Linked DNA regions of Homo sapiens: region 2 is linked to region 1. Evidence: fine-mapped expression QTL. A gene starts in region 1. The other region holds a variant in brackets. All regions are shown on one strand. Distances are from middle to middle. Region 1 holds the start of MAP3K20 (mitogen-activated protein kinase kinase kinase 20). Region 2 overlaps MAP3K20 (mitogen-activated protein kinase kinase kinase 20).

Region 1 (8,340 bases):
TGGGTGACAGAGTGAGACTCTGTCTCAAAAAAAAAGAATAGAAGGCTCAATGCTGAATGGATGTGACAAACTCAGTTATGATTCAGTCAAAGTTTAGATATAGCATTTTAAAGAAAAGTAGCATGGCAAACAATAGTAAAGAATGAGCAGTGACTAGGACTCAAGACTCAGATATGTAGGACTTTATCATCCCACATGACCATCAGGTAGTATGGTCCCGAGGAGGGGACAGTTGTTTAAGGACAGGGCTGGCACCACATCCCAGATTTTCTGCCATTTAGCAAAGTGCTCTCTTCCCTGCTTGATGCAGCTGCCCTGTTACGCTGCGTCTTGAAGCAGAGAACAAGGCAACCAACTCCCTTCAGACTCTAAAATATCAGTTCTCAAAATGCAGCCTGGGGACCCTTTGGGGGGTTTGCAAGGTCAGAACTCTTCATAAAAATATTGACACTCTCTCATGAGTGTACAGTGGAATTTCCCAGAGGATATATGTAGTATGATATTGGAATAGATTAAATTCAGAAGCAGATATTAGAATCCAACTTTTGTCTACTAAGCTAAACGTTAAAGAGATTTGCAAAAATGTAAAACAATGGTATTCTTTCAGTTTTTAAAAATCTGGGGCAATGGTTATTTTTCACTAAAATGTTATTTATGTTAACATAGATAGGCTTATTGGCTTATTATTTTTAAATGGATTAATTTCTAATTTTTTTTTTTTTTGAGACGGAGTCTTGCCCTGTAGCCCAGGCTGGCGTGCAGTGGCACCATCTCAGTTCATTGCAACCTCTGCCTCCCAAGTCCTGCTTCAAGCAATTCTCCTGCTTCAGCCTCCCGAGTAGCTGGGATTACAGGCACCTGCCACCAGGCCCAGCTAATTTTTGTATTTTTAGTAGAGACGGGGTTTCACCATGTTGGCCAGGCTGGTCTCGAACTCCTGACCTTGTGATCAACCTGCCTCAGCCTCCCAAAGTGCTGAGATTACAGCCGTGAGCCGCCGTGCCCAGCTTTAATTTCTAATATAATAAATTTGATAGATATGACTCACTTAAAAGCTATTTGGCATCCTCAATGACTTTTTTAGAGTGTAACGGAGTCCTGAGACCAAAAAGTTTGAGAACTGCTTGATTTGAAAAAACAAGCCTAAAGTCTACCTTTTGCTCCCTGAGGGAAGGCAAGTTGCCCAACTTTTCCAAGACTTTTTCTGGCCCCATAGCATGGGATGATGACTTAAAACTACCTGCTAGGGTTATTGTGAAGACTAAATGGGAAGACGTCTGTGTAAAACTCTTAATTCAGTGCATGGCGTATGACTGTTCAGTAAATATTAACCATCTATTATTATTATTGCTTCTGCTATTACTGTTACCACTACTATGAGGGCTATTACTCCCTGCTGGTGATGTCTTTACTCAGATACATGAAGAACTTATTCTTTGAACTTGCTAAATGCTCTCAGGCCATTGCACTTGTTTCCTTTGCCTGGAATATCTTTCCCTCCTTTTTGTCCAGCAAATCCTCTTCATTTCTTCTTGTATTAACTTCGAGCTTCTTTGATTTAGAAGCCTTCATTGACCTCTCAAAACTATGCTAGGTACCCTGCTGTAAGCCCCAATCTTTGCCCCTTTAAGAGCATACCATAGTGTAATTGCTCGTGTCTTTGCTGGCTCTTCCATTGCACTCCGAAAACTCTGTGAGAGAGGGGACCATGCTTGTTCACTGCTATAATCATAAAGCTCTGCACAGTGCCTGGCAGTCAGTAAATGCCTGTTGAATACATTTTGTAAAAGTCTTCAATATGTCTTCTTGCCACACCGCTCCTTTCATGTCCCAGGGTGCCTAAATAAGCTCGATATCCTGCATATTCCTGTAAATCTCTTTGATCCTCAAGTTAGATGTAAACACTAAACTCAAACAATGATCTGGGCTTCATTTATGATTTTAAGGCAATGGTTAAATGACTTAAAGGATGTTTGATTATATACCTTAATTTCCCAGGGATTCAGAGTTGTACAGGAGGTAAAGCCTTGGTCTTTGCATAAAAGTTGGGTAATTCTTAGCTATGATCCAGGCATAGACTATTCACAAGTTAAGATGGAAAACTAAGACGGCTAGAGAAAATGCCCCTGGGTGCCAGCTTGTGCCATAACTCTTACCACTATAAGAGGAGGGGAGGATAAAGACTGCTTTCTTCCTTTTAAGTTGCCATTCCTTCTGCCATTCGTAGAATTTATGTCTGCACTTTTCTCATCCACTGATAGCTAGTGGCAGTTTCAGAATATCTATTTGAAGAGGGGCTTAGAAGAAACAGTCCCATTGAATAGGGGGATAGGAAAGTTTTTCCTTAAGCTATATTTATATTTTTCAACTTAGATTGCATGTTTATTTTGGAGAATGTTCTTGGATATAAGAGGGTGCTAAGGACTTCCAAGCCACCTCACTGCTAAGAGTACATCTATTTTTAGTGTGGAAACATTTGAAGTAAAGGAATAGGCAGGTTTGATAAGAGAAGTTTGACTAGGTCTCTTTTGTTATTGCTTTTCACACGGGTAAACCTAAACTCTGCCTGGTGAGCATTAACCAATTCAAAAAAGATTTGAAAGTTCAAAAAAGCAGTCGGTGTTGAGAATACATACTAGACCATATTTATTAGGTCTGGGGCCTAAAAAGATCAGTATAATCAATAGGAAACAGGCAGCTTGACAAAAGAAAAACCAAACTTGAGGCAATCAGTTTATCATACAATCATTATATATTTATTTCAGCTATGGACAATACATATGCAGATACCACACAATATAAGATGTGACCTCAAAGGGCTTGCAACCTATTTGGGAAGACAAGAAAATGTCTACTAGATTATCATTTAAGCATGTTTCTGAAACTAATCTTTAGTGTTCATTGTTCCTGCTGGTTATTCTCTTGGCCTAATTATGTGAGGAAAACAGAATGAAGGCAAAGGGATGGGAAGCAAGGGCAATGTGGCTAAAAATATTGATGCTCTTAAGCCATGTGTTCCAAATTTAAAGCAATACATTCATGGTTTTAAAGCTGGAACCTGCAACTAACTTCTAATTAGTCCCTCTTATTTTACAGAGGAGGAAACTGTGGCCTATCCTGCAAAGCACTCTAGCTGATAACTGGTAGCTCTAAGACCAGAAGTCAGGTTCTCTGACTCTCAGTCTAGGGTCCTTTCCAAAACAAACAAGTGCCTCTGAAGGTAAGGTAAAATGACTGGAGTCTTCCTATGCCTGGGGTCTATGCTAAAGAGCCTTAGTTTTTCCTTGAATGGATAGGATGGAATTATTTGAATTATTTTATTAGACCTGCATTATACATTTTTTTAGCATGGCAATTTTCATCAATTCTAATTTCTCAGTTACCAAAATAAAATTTATTAATGCTAAAATCTCCAGTCCTTATCAAAGGGCAAATTAATCAGACTAATAAATTGTTTTTTAACCTCTACTCATTCATCCCTCAACTTTCATATCTTTAACCTATTGAATGACTTACAAATTTTCTATTTCACTCTTGACCTCTTTCCTGAATTTCAGTTTCATATTTCAGTTGCTGCATCTCTACCTGTTTTTACTCCTATGACCTCAAACTCAACATGAAGCCAGCTTCCCTTTCACGTATTCCTATTTTTGTCAATGACACCATCATTCTTCCAGTCATCCAGGTCTGAGATCTTGGCATCATCTCTCTTCTTCTTCTCTTCTAAATCTTGTGGGTTACCAATTTCTGTGGCCTCTTGCTGAAACGTTTAATATTTCTCTCAATTCCATTTCTTCTTTTTTTTTTTTTTTTTTTTTTTTTTTTTTTTTTGAGACAGAGTCTCACTTTCATCCAGGCTGGAGTGCAGTGGCGCGACTGTGGTTCACTTTAGCCTCGACTTCCCCAGCTCAAGCGATTCTCCCACCTCAGCCTCCCGAGTAGCTGGGACTATAGATGTATGCCACCACATCAGGCTAATTTTCTGATTTTTTTGGAGATGAGGTCTCACTGTGTTACCCAGCCAGGTCTCAAGCAATCCTCTCAGCTTGGCCTCCCAAAGTGCTGGGATTACAGGTACCATGCCCAGCCCATTTCTTCTTTTTAATTCCATTTCCTACATCCTAACTCAGGTCCTCATGATCCCACAACCGGGTGGTGACAATATCTACTACTCATCCTGGTTCCATCCTAGCAACCCAACCTACAACTACTGTGGACTACTCTCTCAAAATTACCATTTAAACAGAATCACAAACCCCCATTTCACCCCTTTGATTCTAATTTTTCACAGCTCCCAGTGTCCATGGATAATAAAATTCAAATTCAAAATCCTGAATAATGTTGCCCATGCCCTTGCAACCTCCTCTCACTTTTCCTTCACAGAACCATCCTCCCCAATCAGAAATTTCTTTTCTTCCCAACGCCCACCTCCACCTTTGGCTTAGGCCTGTAACGGACTCTGGCTCCTCTTCTGAATTCTGCTCTGTTAAAATTAGCAACTAGAGCAGCAGACCACGGCCCCTCCTCAAAATTCCAGAGGTACCTACTGATCTTTCTAGAGAGGCAGCCTTCAGACCTATGTTCCCAGAAATCTCTACGTTTGTGCCTTTCCCAACTAGAGAATTAACTCTTGCGGGGCACAAAACAGCCTCTATTTCTTTGCGTCCCCAGCGCCTGTTTGTTGAAGACTGAGTTGAAGGAGTAGCAGGTGGTGTTAATTTGTCAAAAAGATGAGTTAAGGTGCTGGGGGCGAGGGGGAACACCCCCACGGCCCTCCCCCCACAGCAAGGCAGGTGTGTCTGGGGGCCTCGGCGGGTGCCGGGGCGCGGGGCGGATGGTGCCCCCCGGGCGCAGGCCAGGGAGGCCCGAGCGCCTTCCCCACGCCCCGCTCGCCCGCGCGTGTGAGGGGAGGGCGGCCCAGCCGTTTCGCGCCGGGAGGTAGGTGGTGCTGTTGCCGTGACTGTCTTCCTCATTGGCGCCGTGCAGAGAGGCGGAATGTTCAACTCCTAACTGCAGCGGAAACGTGGGAGCCGCGCGGGCCGCTGTCGTCCCAACCCCCGCCGCCCTCGTCGCGCGCGGGGCCTCCGCGCCCCCGGCTGCTGCTCACGCCCCGCCCGGGAGCCAGGTAGGGGTCAGGCTGGAGCCCGCGGAGGGCGGGGAGGGAGGGGGCGAGGCCCGCCGCGCTCGCGAGTCGTCCCTGCGTCTCGGGGCCGAGGCTCCGCCGGAGCCCGGGAGTCTAGGCGGCCTCGGGAGGCTCCTCGGGGCTCCCCTCCCCGACCCAGGGCCCGCCCGGCGGCGGCGGCCGGAGCGAGCGGGCGGGCGAGCGAGCGAGCGTTCGCGGCGCCCGGGAAGTCCTCGCGGGACCTTGGCCGCGGCGCCGCCAAGTGCGGTTCGGGAGAGTTCGGGCCGGTCCCATGGAGAAGTTGGCGCCTGGAGGCGCGGGCGCAGGCCGGAGCGGCCCCGGCTTTCGCGGTCCCGGGCGTGCGGCACGGGCAGGGGCTCCGCGAGCAGCAGAGCCGGCCAAGCAGCGGGTGACTGGGGCACTGTCGGGAGGCGAACCGCGAGGCCCCCAAATCAGGGTAGGGTGCAGGCCACTTCCCAGCACTCGCTGTGCGTGCGAGGAGGGACGACGAACTTCTGCTTTTCTAAGAACTCGACCGCGAGCGGTGTTGCTTCCCATCCATTTTCCTTCATTCTGTTTTCCTCACACAATTAGGCCATGCGAATAACCAGCAGGAACAATGAACACTAAAGATTAGTTTTAAAAACATGCGTAAATGTATCCAGAGCCACCGCTCCCCGCCCTTCCTGCCCCGGGCTTGGGCAGCATGAAGCGCCCGCCCTCTCGGGCTTCCCCCTTTCCTCCCACCGGAGCCGGGGATGTCTCCTTTGGCGACCCTCAGGCAGCGGCTTTTTGTGGGCTCCCAGACCTGCACCAGGCCCAGAAGTGCTTACCCAGGCCGTCGCCTCGTCTGGCCTCGCTTGCCCATGACAGCTTTCAGAAAACTTTAATTCAGGACTGGCTAGATGACATCCGATTGCCTAAAAAATTTTTTTAAAAAGTTATCTCTGTTAGATCGCTGAAAATGTTATGTTTCTGATGCGCTTTGAGATCGCGCATAAGTACTGTTTATGGGGAACTTAATTACTATTTTTGTTAGTTTCTGTAATAATGAAAGCAACACAATTTAGGGGCCCATTCCAAGTATGGTACAGTAAGCAGCTCTCGATACTGGTGTGTGAGAATCGTCTTACAGAGTGAATTTGAGGATGTTTGACTTAAGATTGTTGAAAACTGTACTCCTTCTTTAACCCCGAAGCTGTTTTGGAAGAGCCTTCTTGCTTCCTCGACCTTCGTTGAAATGAACAGCTAGGATTTAGTGGATCCAAACCTCCAAACACGTTTAAAGACAAAAATAAACAAGTGATTCAAGGCTAGTTAATGTCCTCTTTGTAGTAGGCCTATCTCCACAGTGAAATTTCACTTGTTTTTCAATTTTCCAAAAAAAAAAAAAAAAAAAAGTGATGGCTGCATTTTAATTATGGTTATGGTCATTTGTAGAGTCTTTGTTTTAAATTCCTGCTACTATAGTGAGAGATTTAGGAGATTGTAAATGAATACGAATTTAGTTTGGGAAAACAGAATTAAGATAAAGAAAAATGGTCTTTTGGACCACTGCACTGTTTATTTTAATCTATCACAATTTAATTCCTACTATAACTTTTTGAGATTATTTGGGGAGTTTTTTAACTACAAAATATTGTTTAAATAAAAAAATTTAGTGATAATAATTCCAGAGTAAATGACCATGATGCAATTGCAAGGACTTTCTCCGTTGTCTAAAAAAGCAAATAGATGATTGATCCGTTTTTCTTAATCTTTTAGGGAATATATAAGGACACAGTAAAGAGAGAAAAAAAAATCCAAATATTAAACACTCGGACTTGGATCTAAAAATGGATGGTCAAAGATCTTGGGAACTAAGGGGCCTTCTTGCCAAATAAGGAAACTTGGCAAGTTGCACTGTGTATTTTAACTTAGCACAAGAGTGAGTGTTATTGGCAATATATTGGCTCAGAGCCTATCTGGAATGAGCAGTGAAACTGACTTTGATAGGGCTACAAAATTATAAATAGGTTTGTGGGGGCGTGGAGTGAATAATCGAATCATCAGAGAAAACACTGAAAACTTTTCATGAAAATAAGTCAGATGTAAGGTGAAGCTATTAGTGTGGAGTGACAGAGCAAAATGGACAGTTTATTTTAGAAAGTGGTAGATTCAGAAGAGAGGAGAGAATCAGTGGTTTTTTTGTTTTTGTTTTGTTTTTGTTTTTGTTTAAACTGGAAAAAGATGTTTGTGGGGATATAATACTTCTTGGAATAAGATAGCCCTATGTCTGTATCCTGAGATGTTGGAAATAAAAATGAATTTAGATCACTTGTTTTCCATTTTATTCTACCCAGGACAGATTGACAGGGTGAGTATCTTGTCTATCTAAATGTAGTAGGAACAGTTAAGGCACCTTTTGGTCTTACTGCAAGGAAGATTTAGGCTAGTTTTTTGGTAGCTATTAACTTTGCCCCACTAGACACAAATAAGCAGAGTTCCAGCTGTGACCAGAAAATTGTACCTGGTAAGGGAAGAGGACTATGAATGCTAGAGCTTAGATTGATTCGACTGATACATGGGTGCTTTTATGTCAGACCCTCCTACGGATGCTGAAGCATCGTCCTAATAGCTGTTAAGTAATCCCAGCACAGTAGAAGAATCTGTGAGAACAAAGCAGCCCCACATTTGACACCCTAACCCCAGTGTCTTCAATTGTAATAGGAAATTAAAGCCTCAAATTGAACTTTAGGTGGATGGTGAGCAATCCAGTAATTACTGTAATAAGAAAATAGTTTAAATAGGGTAAACAAAAGGCAAATTAGAAGGAGGAGGCAGAATGTTATTAACAAAAAGACATGATATGGTAGAAAACAATGATATGACTTTGGAGTCAGGCCTGAATTTGACACAAGTTGTGTCACCTGTAAGGTAGTTGGCTTGAGCTACTTTCATACCCCTGATCCTCAGTTTTCTCACTCATGTAAGTTAGGAACAGTAGTACCTGCTTCCTAAGGATAAGTACAGTCATGTGTCCATTAATGATGGGGATACGTTCTGAGAGAACTGTGTTGTTACGTGATGTTGTAGTTGTGTAAATACCACAGCGTGCACCTACACAAACCTAGATGCTATAGCCTACTACACACCTAGGCTGTGTGAGATAGTCCGTTGCTCCTAGGCTACAGACCTATGTAGCATGCTGCTATACTGAATAGGCAGTTGTAACACAG
Region 2 (8,340 bases), 64 kb after region 1:
CTATTCAATACTTCCATTAATAATTTAGGTAGCATCTGATTCACTCTGAGTTCCTGTAACAGTCGGAAGAGTAATTGACATGTTAAAAGGTGCAATAAGAATAAGAACCTGAAAAGATTTCAACAGATTAGAGCAGTGGGTTAACAGACGGAAATGAAAGTCCTGCATGGAGACTCTGGAAAGCTAAGGATTGATAGAGGATGAGGAAGATGTGGCTTAACAGAAGGACATTTTATATTTGGGGCTTATTATGAGTTAAAATGTGATATATTTGCCAGAAAAGTTAATGTGATTTTCAAACTGTGATGGGAAGATTTTAGAATCCTGAATGAAGGAGATCATACCCTATTCTTCTGTGTTTAAAGTTTTAGATCTTTTCCTCCTTTGCTGTTTGGGAAATCAGCCAGCCTCTCTGGGACTAGGTTTCTGCACTTATAAAATGGGGATAATTTCTGCCCAGTTATATTTCTCTGAATTGTAAATGTCAAATATAATGAATGCAGGAGATATCATTATCACTCTAGACAATTTTATCACATTTTTTCATATGCTTCAAAACCCTTTTCCTTGATATGAGTGACAACTTAGTATCACCAGTTTTTATTAACCATGTATAATTTTAATTAACTGAATTTAAATTAACTAAAATCTTAGGGATTGTAGCATATAGATTATTAGACTTGCTTTAAACACTCAGTAGAAATGTGAGCATCTAAGTGGTTGGTAAATAGTGAATTATTTTTCACTGCTTTTTAGTTTAGATATTCATTGACAAACCTGTGTGCTACACTGACCAAGGTGTTGTAGAATAAGTTGTACTGAATACCTTAACAACATCAATGCTAAAATTAGCTGTAACAAAAGCAGCATGTGCCACCTTGTTGAATAGCCTGTGTTCCACTTTTAGGGAAAAAGGATACCCCAGGAATATAGGGAAAGAATAGAGTGGCAGTTTCTTTTTACAGCATTTGCTGATGGCACGGAGGAATGTGATTTTTGGGGTGTGGGGCTCCTTTTTCCTGTTCGTTCATGTTTCTTTCCCTCTTTTTGACTTAGTCACTGTCATAACAGAAAATGCATAATATGGAGATCAAGAGCCTGCAGATTACAACTCTAATTATGTTTTAAACCCAAACATGAAAATTAGAATTCTTTTACACACAATCTGACAGTTTTCCATCAGCTTTAAATTGGCATTTTGGATTGTGTTCTCTGCAGTGCCTGAAGAGCCTCGACAGAGAAGGAAAGAAGCAGAGGGTGAGAAAGAAAGGAAGATTCTAAATGACAATCTTTTGAATAGTGCAAGTTCAATCCCTAAAACAAAAAGCAAGATCTTTTTTCCCCTAAATAATGTGCTCTCCGGCTTCACCTCTCATCCTGAGGAACATGAAAGAGAACGTAAAAGAGGTGACCCAAATCACAGAGTGCCTTTGATAGGAGAAATTCAGCTGTTTTGAACACTCACAATCAAAGGAAGTGGTTTCCCTAATTACATGAACTATGTGAAATCTCTCAGAATAGCTCTTCCACCCCAGGATTCCTTGCACTTTAGAAGTTTGCATAAAAGCTCACATAGAGAATCAGATGCAAAGTGTTTGATTCAGATTTTATTAGGCAGAAGAGTGCCCACATCCATCCTGCAGTTTGCCAGCTGCTTAGGTTAGGACCACTATACCTGGTTTTGATGTGGTTGTCTTTCAAACCTGCAACATTAAGATCTTTGTTCTATCCTTTTCTTGCAAGAAGCACCACTTTTTAGGGAGAGTAGCGATGAAAATTTTTGGAAGATTGGTCTTCTCAATTTCTCTCCTGACCTAAAAAGGATTGATGGCTGTGTTTGTGAACTTTACGTGGGAAAACATGCTTTCCTGTGTGTTTGTAGCTGGCGAGTGTTAAAGCGTTAGATTTGATTAAGCTCTTTAATCTGTTTAAAAATGGTTAAATGTCACAATGACTTACCTTAAAATTTATATATGCAAAATTCCCCATTTACTGTCAGGATCTAGACTAGGAATCTGCCAAAACACCTGGACTAAAGAATAATAGTGATTATGGCTTATTAGATCTTTTGTGCCTTGGTAGTCACCTTGTTACTGAGAGATACGGTGTAGTGTAGATGTGTACAGAAGAGAATTATAAATACCCTATGTTCTCTGTTTGGGAAGGCAAGTATAAGTATGAATGCAGAAGACAGAAGCATCCATTTTAATTTAAATGTCAGCTTGAGAAGATTTTTTTTTTTCTGGTTGAGTAATTTTAAAGTAAGAGAAATTGTCTAGTATGTAATTACATATGAGTAAGAAGTGTGCATGTTTTATTTTGTCTCTTTTCTCTCCCTCTCTTTTTTTCCTTTTTCCTGTGAATAGGTATGTTGCTCTTATTGTAGTTTATAAAATATTCTTTTGAGAATCTGTGTGTCCCAAAAAAGAAAAGGGAATCTATGAGCAGAAATGGAAGGAAATTTTATTTTTACAGTTTTTAAAGTACTGGCTTTAATTGTAACCCACATAAAATTTCCTAATACTAGTGCTGTTGACACGTGGGCATCAACATTTAAGTAACAGAAAGTAAAAGTGATCCTCAACCATACAAGCCACAAAAATCTACTTGAACAATTACCTAGCAATTTCTTTCTACTTTAACCATCCTCATTTATTCCAGGTAAGTAGCTTATTTGAAAAGACACGTAGATTAATAAATATTTGTGATTTTTTGTTCTTTTTTGAGACAGGATCTTGCTGTGTCGCCTAGACTGGAGTGTGCAGTGGCGTGATCTCGGCTCACTGCAACCTCCGCCTCACAGGTTCAAGCAATTCTCCTGCCTCAGCTTCCCAAGTAGCTGGGACTACAGGCGCCCGCCACCCAACCCAGCTAATTTTTTTTGTATTTTCAGTAGAGACGGGGTTTCATTATGTTAGCCAAAGTGATCTTGAATTCCTGACCTCGTGTTTCGCCCGCCTCGGCCTCCCAAAGTGCTGGGATTATAGGCGTGAGCTACCGTGCCTGGCAAATACTTGTGATTTTAAAGGGATGTTTAAAATCTGAAAGTGTCCATGATTATGAAATATGCACTTTTTCTATTTTGTGTGTTTTGAACTCCTAATTATGGATGTGTTAAGGTTTGGATATTTTGTACACAGTCATAGCATTGTAATATGGGGAAGATTTGAAAGATGATGAAGGATTGACACTGTAGTGTAGGTTTTTTGCTTAACAGGTGGGTTTTCACATAATTGTGAAAAGTTCTGTTCTCTTAGAAATCGAATACAATACACAAACTGAAATTTTAATAGCTATTTTAGTCCAACAGCCCCAAGCCCTCATTTTAACAATCAGTAATTTGAAGTTCAGATAGGTGATGTTCAGTAGCAACAGATTCAGTCCAAGGGCCCAGGTCTTTGGTTTGCTGGTTTGGAGCTCTTACACCCTGTTAGGTTCCCTCTGTGTCTGTTGCTTTTTAAATGATACTCAACTGCCTACTGGATGCTTGTGACAAGAGAGAAGGTTTGATATTCCTGAATGATAGCCACTTATTTGATAACACTTTAACATTAGCACCAAAAGGTCATTTTGTTTTCCTTCTTCATCTGGTACTTCTATCAGCTAGGGCCATAGTACCACATGAATTGCTGTTCTAGATCAAGATTGTAGCTAAGTCATTTCAGACACTGCGAATTCTGTATCTGTTTTTAAAAGTCCACAGGCTGTCTGGAAGTGGGTTCAATCATACTCACCATTCAGAAGTTCTGCTTAATGGCTGGCTTAAGTAACTTTTGTTAACGTTTGAACTTGGTATCCTCAAATGATAGTATATAATATTACTCAGTGCTTTGCCATTTGTAAAGCACTGTTACTTACATTATTTCCTTGCAAATGATGAAGCAAGTGTGTATGATTCCCAGAAGCACACTGGAGAAGTACAGTGCTTAATCTGAGGTTTTTCTGGCTTTGGACCCAGTGTGTGCTCTACTCATAATAGAATCTCAGCTTTGGAAAGGACTTTAATTGACCATATTTCCGATGCCTTAATGTCCTCCGAAACATTACTGCCACAAATGGGCATTTACCTCCTGTTTGAATTCTGATTGCTTATGAAGGAGAACTCAGTAGCCTCCTGGGCCAGTCCCTTTTATCTTTGGGAAACTGACTATTAGAAAGTTCTTCTCTGAGTTATTCTGAGTCTATACCATATGCTGTCTAACAGTGCTTGTTTGGACCAAGGATAAAAGGATCAATGTAATGCTGTAATATGATTTTAAAAACAACATTAAAATTATACTCTTCAGAAAACTCTTACAAAATGACATTTATTAGGTGCCTACTTTCCCCCTGATTGTTATCTTACTTATAAGTAAAATAACTTCATTTATTTTAGCTTTTTAGTTTTCTGTGAATTTTTAAGTTCTTTTTCTTGCTTGGTGGAATCTCTTCCAAAAATAAAAAATGACCAGTGCTTACTTAAGTAAAGGAACCAATATGGATATAGTTAGTAAACGAAAAGTAGATTCCTAAATATTTTATTTTACACACTCAGTATCATGTTTCTTTTTAAAGTTTCTATTCATAGCCATTTGTTTACTGTGACCCTGCTATACTTACACCCACATATTTCCATGTTATATTTACTTCCTAGATTTTAAATTTTTATGTTAAAAAAGTAATACATGTTCAGTGTAAAACAAGAAATTTCAGCAGTATGCAAAGTAAAAAAGCAGTTTTCCTTCCCTGCAATCCTATACTTAA[T/TTTTA]TTTATTTATTTATTTATTTATTTATTAGATGGAGTTTCACTCTTGTTGCCCAGGCAGGAGTGCAATGGCGCAATCTCAGCTCACTGCAACCTCCGCCTCCCGGGTTCAAGCGATTCCCCTGCCTCAGCCTCCCGAGTAGCTGGAATTACAGGCGCGTGCCACCATGCCTAGCTAATTTTTGTATTTTTAGTAGAGATGGGATTTTGCCATGTTGGCCAGGCTGGTCTCAAACTCATGACCTCGTGATCCACCCACCTCAGCCTCCCAAAGTGCTGGGATTACAGGCATGAGCCACCACGCCCAGCCACAATCCTATACTTTAAAATCATTAGTTTGTGAGTAACTTTCCAGATTTTTTTTTTGAGATGGAGTTTCACTCTTGTTGTCCAGGCTGGTATGCAGGGGCACAATCTCAGCTCACCGCAACCTCTCTGCCTCCTGAATTCAAGTGATTCTTCTGCCTCAGCCTCCCAAGTAGCTGGGATTAGAGGCATGCACCACCACACCCGGCTAATTTTGAATTTTTAGTAGAGATGGGGTTTCTCTATTTTGGTCAGGTTGTTCTCGAACTCCCAACCTCAGGTGATCCACCCGCTTTGGCCTCCCAAAGTGCTGGGATTACAGGTGTGAGCCACTGCATCCAGCCCAGATGTATTTTTTTCTCTGTATTTATAACTATCGCTAATACTATTCCCCCCATAAAAATGGATCATGTGAAGAGGGTGGCATGAGGGAACCTTGTGATGAAATTTTCCTGTATCTTGACTGTGGTAGGAATCACTTGAATGTACGTGTATGACAAAATTATGCGGAACTAAACATATACACACACACACACGAGTGCATATAAAACTGGTGAAATCTGAATAAAGTTGGTGGATTGTGTAAATGTCGATTTCTATTGGGAGAAACTGGTTGAAAAATATATAGGTTCTCTCTGTATTATTTCTTATAATTGCATGTGTATCTATAATTATCTCAAAGTAAAAACTTAAAAAAACTAGATTATGATATTTTATATGTATATATATCATAAAAACGTGTCCCAATGTGTAAGTTGTAAATCACCTCGCAACTTACTTTTTGAACTTAGTATACTGAGGCACTTTTTTATGTGACTACACGTAGAGCTACCACATTCCTTTTAATAACTTTTTTATTTTGTATTTAAATAATATTTGTTTACTTCACATTTACTTTTTATACTAAATTCTCGTGTAGTATTATTAGAAAAACTAGACATGTGAAGTAAAACATATTAGACATGTGAAGTTGTAATTAGCAGACAAAAGACTACAAAGCAGCTTTTATAAACATGTTCAAGAACTTAAAGGAAACCATGGTTAGAATGAGAGAGCAGAATCAGTAATTCAGCAGGAAGATGGAAACTAAAAATTCTAGAACTGTAAAACTACAGTCTCTTTAAATGTAAATTGTACTGATGGGGCTTAACAGCAGATTGAGGAAGGCAAAAGAAAAGGTCAGTATATGTGAAGACAGATTAATATAATTTATCAAATCTCAAGACCAAACAAAAAAAATTTTAAAAATTGAGCAGTTACACATGAGACAATGTCAATCTAATATACATTAATGGAATCACAGAAAGAAAGGAGAGAGAGAGAGGGGATGGATAGAAAAATATGTGAAGAAATGATGACTTCAAGTGCCCCAACTTTGATGAAAACCATACACTTACAGTTCCAGCAAGCTCAGAAAACCCCAAGCAGGATAAATTAAAAATGAAAACCAGAAACACCACACTCAGTCACATCATAGTTAAACTGCTAAAAATCATTGATGAAAAGAGAAATGTCAAAAACAGCCAGAAAAAAAAGACACATTACATAAAGGAAGCAATACCAGTTACTTCTCACTAGAAACAATGGAGGCCAAATGACAGTGGAATGACCTGTAATATGCCAAAAGAAAAAAGATAACTGCCATTTTAGAGATCAATACCCACTTAAAATAGTCTTCAAAACTGAAGATGAAATAGACATTTTTAGATAAATGAAAGCTGAGATAATTTATTGCCAGCAGATTTAGTTATGGTTAATATTAGGGTAAATACAAATGATCATTTTAAAAATTCTTTTAATTTCTTCAAAAGACAACAGCTAAAAGGAAAGTTGCAGTGTTATATTATGGGTTGTATAATGTATGTACGTTAAAATATATAACACATGGCTGGGCGTAGTGGCTCACGCCTATATCCCAGCACTTTGGGAGGCCGAGGCGGGTGGATCATGAGGTCAGGAGATCGAGACCATCCTGGCTAACATGGTAAAACCCTGACTCTACTAAAAATACCAAAAATAAGCCCGGCGTGGTGGTGGGTGCCTGTAGTCCCACCTACCCAAGAAGCTGAGGCAGGAGAATGGCATGAACCCAGGAGGTGGAGGTTGCAGTGAGCTGAGATCGTGCCACTGCACTCCAGCCTGGGCAACAGAGCGAGACTCCGTCTCAAAAAAAAAAAAAAAGTAGTATATATATATCACAATGACACAAAGGATGGGGAAGTGAGCAAGCATCTTACATTTTATGTGTAGCACAAAATTAAATCTAAGTAGACTGTGGCAAAAATATATGTTGAATTCTTAGAGCAACCACTACCTACCCCCACAAAAAAACAAAACAAAAGAGGTATAGCTAAAAAGCCAATGAATGAATGAAAATGATATACTAAGAAAAAAATTGTTAAAACAAAGACAGGAAAGGAAAAACAGGGGAACAAAAAACAAATAGAACGAATTTTTAAAAACCAAGATAGTAAACTTAAGCCCAGTAATATACATAATTACATTAAGTATAAATGAATTAAGCACCCCAATTAAATGGCAGAGATTGCTAGGCTGGATGAAAAAGCAAGATCCAGCCAGGCACAGTGGCTCACACCTCTAATCCCAGCAATTTGGGAGGCCAGGGCAGGAGGATCACTTGAGCCCAGGAGTTCAAGGCTGCAGTGAGCTGTGATCACACCATCGCACTCCAGCCTGGACAGCAGAGCTAGAACCTGTCTCAAAAAGAAACAAACAAAAAACAAAAAAATAAAACAAGACCCAACTATATGCTATCTACAAGAGGTGTATTTTAAATATAAGACACAGATCTGTTGAAAGTAAAAACATGAAATGGGAAAAGAGGGGTATGCAAATAGAAAGCATAATAAAGGTGTAGTGGCTCTATTAATATCAGACACAGTATGGACTTCAGGAACCAAAAGTATTACTAAAGATAAAATGATTTAATAATGATGATTTAAAAAGTCAGTTTCTTAAAAGATATAACAATCATAAATGAATATTTATCCTAATAACAGAGCTTCAAAATACATGAAGCAAAACTGATAGAACTAGAAAAAGAAATAGACAAATTCACAATTACATTTGTAAATTTTAAATATCCCCCCCTAAGCAACTGAGACATTATACTTAACAACTACAAAATATACATTATCTTCAGGTGCACATGGAGTGTTCTCCAGGATAGATCATAAAATAAGTTTTTATAATTTTCAGTCTTTTAAAGGGATCTGCCAAAAAACCTACACCTAACATTTTAACTCAACGGGGAAATATTGAATGTTTTTCTCC

What was found. PIP is the estimated chance that this variant, and not a neighbour inherited with it, causes the effect.
Region 2: its variant is fine-mapped to the expression of MAP3K20 in aorta (GTEx, PIP 0.97).

The regions. Positions count from the first base shown.
Region 1 is chr2:173,070,878-173,079,217 of GRCh38, forward strand. MAP3K20 (mitogen-activated protein kinase kinase kinase 20) reads left to right here and starts at 4,969. Exons shown (of 20, transcript NM_016653.3): 1 at 4,969-5,125. RefSeq lists silencers at 4,664-4,713, 4,794-5,533.
Region 2 is chr2:173,135,260-173,143,599 of GRCh38, forward strand. The region is part of intron 2 of MAP3K20 (mitogen-activated protein kinase kinase kinase 20); the gene reads left to right. Among named protein-coding and RNA genes, the nearest start is that of MAP3K20, 64 kb to the left of the region's middle. RefSeq lists an enhancer at 3,935-4,104. The variant T/TTTTA (reference allele first, on the strand shown) is at 4,744.